Homo sapiens: one gene and its partner. The protein of the gene in region 1 interacts with the protein of each later gene in a biochemical or structural test. Each region holds a gene or a part of one and is shown in the gene's direction. Other genes may lie near its edges.

The links.
Region 2: the proteins of SLC15A5 (region 1) and MAGI3 interact in a test that uses a peptide from one of them, tested with the Homo sapiens proteins (one large-scale study listed by IntAct).

Annotation. Positions count from the first base shown.
Region 1 is NC_000012.12:16,218,686-16,222,185, reverse strand, and holds part of SLC15A5 (solute carrier family 15 member 5), read left to right. Parts: intron 1-3,500. UniProt on the Homo sapiens protein: Proton oligopeptide cotransporter.
Region 2 is NC_000001.11:113,645,515-113,649,014, forward strand, and holds part of MAGI3 (membrane-associated guanylate kinase, WW and PDZ domain-containing protein 3), read left to right. Parts: intron 1-971; coding exon 972-1,128; intron 1,129-3,500.

The DNA of each region.
Region 1 (3,500 bases):
AAGTGGAAGATTTTATGTAAAGCAAAAACCGCAGTGCCCCGTATATAGACAGCATTCAATAATTAGCAGTTATAATGTGTTGTTATCATTACTAAAAGTAATGGCAAAAACCACAATTACTTTTTCACCAACCTAATATTATTATCATGTTTCACATGAATTAATAGTGTCAGACTCAGAACAGAAGCACAGGTGTCCTGTTCCCAGCTCTTTCTGCCATAAACCACCTGAACAGCTGGGAGACCTGGAAGCATAAGCAGAACTGTCTCTCACTTGATTCATCCTAGATCCATCTCTTTCCTCTCACCTCTCCCCTCCAATCCAACAGCAAGTCCTCATTTTTACTCTGAAATATAACTTAAATCTGGCCACATCTCACTATCCCCTTTGTTCTCCTGGTGTACAACACCATCATCTCCAGCCCCAATTCGACCAGAGCCTCTGAACTTTTCTCCCTGCTTCCTCTCCTGCCCCATGAGTCCATTCTCTTCAAAACAGTTGTGGTGTTCTTCTCAAAACATAAGTTCTATCATTCCCCTGATTGAAATTCCACAGTAGAGTTTTAGAGATAAATTATTCACAATGGTGAATAATGTTCCACATGATTTGGTCTCCACGTGTTGTTCCACCTACATTTGGTTACAATCTGCCCCTTGACCACATCCCCAGAAATGTGTGTGTTTCTAAGATGCTAGATTTCTGTCTACCCCAAGTCCTTTGTACTTGCTTTATCCTTTATTCAGAATTCCCTTTCCTCTGTTTTCAAATGACTGGCTTCTCATTATTGAGCTTTCTCAAAGGTCTTCTCTTTGGAGGGGCTTCCTTGAGCATTCCATCACTTTCCACTTAATTACCCTGGTTTTTTAAATAGCACTTGTCAGAATCTGAAATTACTTTATTTATATTTGTATTGCCTGCCTCTCACTGTAAGAATATACATTCCTGACATCAAGGTATGTTTCTCCTTTCCGAAAAGTACATATACAAAATAGGTGATCAATAAATACATTTTGATTGAAGAAACAAATGAATGAAGTCTACGGCTATTTCTATATGGTACAATAAAAATGTATTATTCAAACTTTTGACAGTGTCCTACATTGATGGCATTGAGCAAGGAAACACAGTGAATCACTCCATAAATGACAGTAGACATAGCCTACCCTACTAAGACATGTTATACATTGGAGATGAGCTAGAAAAAAAAAAGCAGTAGGAAACTTTTCAAATTATGTTTTAATTGTAGCAGCGTACACCTCAGCTGTCTCATACCCTATGTTTGTTTATTCAAAAAATACTGTGTGGGTGTCTACAGTGTGCCTAATACTGCTCTCGAAGTTTTAGACACATCAGTTAAAAAAAATAAGACAAAAATTTCTGCCATTATAGCTTATAGCATCTCTGTGGTTGAGTAGTGGAGAGTAAGTTGGGAAGATAGAAGGCTCTAATCAGAGAAGGGTGCACAAAATTGTGATTATGGAGTGGGTACAGTTATTGATCCAACACATGGTTTTGCAGGCCAGTCTCTGTTACAATTACTCAACTATGTCATTGTGGTATGAATGCAGCCATAGACAACATATAATAAATGAGCGTGGCTGTGTTCCAATAAAACTTTATTAAAATAGGTGGCAAACTGAATATTACCTGACCATAGCTGGCCAACCACTGGTCTGAGGTACAAGGCATAGGCCATGACCTTGGGTGTGAGTGGAGTGGAAGCTGAGGTAGATTGGAGATCAGACATTGGAGGTCAAGGAACTGGACAACCAAGATTGAAAGGATGGAAGGTGGGAAGGATGATCTACATGTATAGTAAAATTGCCAAGTATTAAGGCAGAAGTAGTACCAGAGAGTGTGACAATGAGAGAGGAACTGACAACTCTGAGAAAAAGAGGAAAATGTCCTATAGATTGGCAGATGACAGCATGAAAGGGAAGTAGATGATATAGTCTGATAACATGAGCTTCAAAGCTGAAGCTTTTTTAGGGTTAAGGGAGATATAATGGTCTAAAAATGGCAACAGGATAAAGTTCCATTTTCTGGGACTGTGGTACTTCTTCTCCACATGTTCAAAATAACTTTTCACCAAACACAATACACACATTTTAACTGTTTAAGAACAACGAGAGTAAAAAATATTTCCAGCAATAAGTCCCCAGTACCAGGTGCCTTAGGAAGGTGGTTATGGCCCTATATTTTGAAGATTCCTCATATGCTGTGATGTGGCATCTTTACAAGCACTAACCAGCTACTACCTGGAGGCACATTTTTAGCGCTCATTGGCAAGAAGACCAGCTTTCACGTACACACTGAATATTTTTTATTGTGTCTTCATAGAAAAACGGGAACTTTACAATAGTGACAGACTTATTGATATTATCTACATTGTAATGGGCTAAAAGAAATATCTCGGAGCCTAAAAAAAATCAAATTGATGATCACTAAAGTTTCAAAAGATCAGAACATGCAAGTAGATGCCTAAAAATGAAGATTCGAGGACTTGAAAAGCTAAGTCCTATAAAAGGGAACTGGAGGTTTTCAAAAACGACTAAAATGACACCAAAGAGAGATTAACCAGCAGGCAGAGAGCTGGCAAAGTGTGTTCATGAATTATATACCGTACCAGAAGTTCTAGCAGGAGAAAAGCATAGGATTAATAATTAACTAGCAGAGTAATAATGGGCTTGTATGTTCTGCTTTTTCTTAGTGAAAGAAATAGGCCTACTTACTCTTTCTGCTCATTGCTTGTCTCCTTGTACTTATGGAAAGGAAAGTTTATAAGCCAAATCCTTTTTATAACTGTGAATCATTTATTCCCAAAGCCTATTCAGGCTTCCTCTCATATTCCCATTTGGACCTTTCTGAAAATACTCCAAGGTTCCTGCTGGTGATTGGTACTACACAAAGAGCTGTGCTACCGTGCCACCAATATTTGAAGCCCTTCTCCACAGTATTTTACCTATCACCATTATTATCTTCATCTCCAATCAGCGTTTGTGGGAAAAGTGCACATTTAGCACTGCCCTTTGTACTAAATAATGTGCTGTTTCTGCTCCAGAGTTTAAAGTCCAGGAAAGATAAACTGATGCCTTTTCCCACCTCTCAGTTCCAGCACTGAGCACTTTCCTGAAGTGCAAAATGGGATTCCTTTAAATCTTTATGGGATAAATAAATCAAGACATGTGCAGGACACACCGAAAGTAAAACAGAAATTTTAAATTAAGGAAGGAGCATTAATACATTTACATCATGTGTTAGTAAGATCATGGAAAAGTTCTGGTAAATGCAGAGTTTTGCTGCAGCAAAGTATTAAAAACAAACAAACAAGCAAACAAAAAACCAGGGGTAAATATTCCCGAGAGGAGCAGGAAGAGATAATAAGATCTCTTACTTCTCATAGAGAAGGAAACTAAATGTTTAGTGTTTACAGTACAGTCATGCAACACGTAACAACATTTTGATCAATGATGGATCACGTATATGACGGCAGTTTCATA
Region 2 (3,500 bases), on another chromosome or scaffold:
TATAATTGATGGAAGGGTCTGATGAACTTTAACCGCCTCTGACAGAATGCTAAGATGTATGGGGAAGGGTAGGAGACTACTGTTAGCTTCTCTGCCTTCTCATTGGGTCTGGGTGATTGAAGGGTCCCCTCTAGCACGACACTTTGTAGTGGCTGACCCCTGATTACTCCCTGACAGACTGGTGCCCCTGCATTCTAGTCATTGTTAATGATCACAAACATCCATAATCTCCCTCTCCTAACAATAATCCAGGAAAACGAGCTGGTCTCAAAACCATATTTCTTAGGCCATTTATTGGATTTCATTGTTAACATTTTATTAAATAAGTCATTTTGCTTGGCTGTTATCTTGGGAAAGTTCTAGCTGAATAGGAAAAATATCAAAATATGCTACTATGCTTTCCCTTATCTAATTGTCTTGCATGGTACATTTTCTCTTAATATATGTGAATTGGCCAGACAGGGTTTTCACAGTGCCATCTTTATAACCTAAATTAGAGTTAACCTCTCCTGTTTTCTTAGAAAGAGTATTATCTTAAACATCTTCCTTAGAAATTAAACTCAGTGAATGGGAGGTGGGCCGTGCTAAGAATTTTATGAAGATATTCTCTGAATCTCCCTCTTACTTTACTTAGAAGTGCTGCCTTGTATTGTATTTCTATTTATCTTCATCTCAAAGTCAATTTGTGTCTTGGTGGTGGAGAAAAGGGCAAAATTGTTTAAACATAGGACTAACTAAGGCTCTTCAGTTGATATTACTATAAACTTTTTTCTAATTTAAGTTAAATATGTTTCAACCAAATACACATTGCTATGAAAATGAATTCCTGTAACTGTAAATCTGCTGTGTCTTTGATCCTGCCACCTATACAACTATAATCAGTTGACATATCCATTTCAGATATCAGTTTTATGAATTAATCAACCATCTGCTTTTTAAAAAATACTAAGTAAGGCTCTTTTCCATTTCAGAAAACAGATAAAAAGGAAAATGCAGGAAGTTTGGAGGCCATAAATGAGCCTATTCCTCAGCCTATGCCTTTTCCACCGAGCATTATCAGGTCAGGATCCCCAAAATTGGATCCTTCTGAGGTCTACCTGAAATCTAAGACTTTATATGAAGATAAACGTAAGTAGTTGTGGAATATTTCAGGAGAGCATATAACAAGATAAATTTGGATTTATTTTAGACTAGGACCTTCCCATCTTTCAGAAGCATATTGAAAAGTTATTCCTTCATTACCATTTTAATAGAACTCTGGACTTCTTCCATGTATATTCGACATTCACACATTCATTTTTTTCAAAATCATGCTTTAAGTGCTAGTTATCTACCAGATGCCATACTAGGTAACCAGAATACAGAGATAAATAGGTTACATAGGACCTGCACCCAAAAATATTATTAGAACTAAATGGAAAAAGACAAATATGTAATCAAATAGTATACAAATAAGTACACATAATAAGCCTAACAGGTACAGTGATAGAAAGATGAAATGGATAAATTGGGATCCAAAGAAGGAATATTCAGTTTTATCAGTGTGGGCAGTAGGAAGTGTCAGGAAAAGCTTCATACTGGAAGCAAAGCTTTAACTAAGTCATCAGGGATGAAAAAGTGTCTTTGAGGAAGATAAAAGGGAAAGATAGAAGGAATAGCACATGCACACTGGCCTTGCATGACTTGGGCTCTGCAAGTAGTTCACTTTCGCTGGGTGCAATTGGCAAGGAAAGTCACAGAGGAGAGCAGGAACAGATTGAGGAAGGCCAATGATGCCCTTCCAAGGGAGCTGGAGTTGGTCATATAAATAACAGAGAACCACAGAATGCCTTTAACTATAAGGAAGGCATAGTTTTGTGTTTTAGAAAGGTTTTTCTGGCAGGAGTATGAAGGATGAATCAGAGGTGTATGCAATTTGAGGGAGGGTGTGCAATTTGAAGAAGAAACTAAAGAGTTGACTCCTTACAGGAGTCCAGCTGAGAGATAAAAAGAGAGACTGCATAAGGCAGAAATTCATGCATGTTCCTACTAATTCACTTACTAATGATAAATCTTTTCCAAAGTAAAATTGCAGATTTGAGTAGGTATAATTTTTTAAAATTTATTTGTTCTTAGAAAGAGATGTAAATCTACCTTGGAAAAGATATGTACAAGTGGAATATATGTATAGTTGACTTAATGCTTATTTAACTAGTTGCAGAAGTACATCTTGATAATCCCAAGCCATATTCAGAAAGATGAAAACCAGTTGTACGCCCAGCAAAGCAATAATTTAAATTAGCATAACAATGTAGAATCCCTTTCTTCATACTTTCCATTCATAGCCTGATACATTATTAATACTGGTATAAACTCTGCAGTCCCATCAGGCTTCACCCATAAAATAAGTGAGTTGAACTGATGACTCTTTTTTTTTTTTTCCCCTGAGACAGAGTCTTGCTCTGTCACCCGGAGCTGGAGTGCAGTGGCACAATCTCAGCTCACTGAAACCTCTGCCTCCTAGGTTCAAGCAATTCTCCTGCCTCAGCCTCCTGAGTAGCTGGCACTACAGGCGTATGCCACCATGACTGGCTAAGTTTTGCATTTTTAGTAGAGACGGGGTTTCACCATGTTAGTCAAGCTGGTCTCAAACTCCTGACCTCGTGATCCGCCCACCTCGGCCTCCCAAAGTGGACTCTTTTAATCTCTAAAGTTCTACAATTTTAATAGGAAGTATATATCAAAAGATACTGCTTCTATAGAATATTATCAGGAATTTACTAATCTCACTTTTTACATAGTTCCCTGACATGTTTATTTCTTCTCTCTTTACAGTAAATACTTCTTACCTATAAATAACATTAATATTTTCCCAAAGGAAAAATTTTAGTCATGAAATAGATTTTTGTGACTTAATATTCTTTTTTTTTTTTTTTGAGATGGAGTCTTGCTCTGTTGCCCAGGCTGGAATGCAGTGGCACGATCTCAGTTCACTGCAACCTCTGCCTCCCAGGTTCAAGCAATCCTCCTGCTTAATATTCTAAGGAATACAACCTACCCTTTGAGGGTAGGACAGTATGAGTTAGGAGATTAGACCCTGGAAATCAACCTGGATTTAAATCTTAGCTTCACCACTTGCTATGTGACAATGGCCAACTTACTTACACCCTCAGTTTTCCCACCTAGAAAATGGGGCTAATAATAAATGTTAGCTCTTAATTATTTTCCTTTAAAATGCTATCATTTTGCAAAACTAGGCTAGGTAAGTAGTTCATATGGAATACTTTTCTGAGAGAAAGGTATTAGCTTGAGAGCAGGAATAAGGTATTTTACAGGCACTCTATACAGCAGTGCCTGTACAGATTTAATGTACCTTACCCAAGTGTTAACTTAGGTCATTTGCACCTGTCAAATATCAAACTCAAGTTTGATCATTCTGAATTCAACATTGTTATATTGATTGGACAGCATTAGAAGTTAATGGCAGTGTAATACTGAGTATATGGAAGTGAGAGTAAATG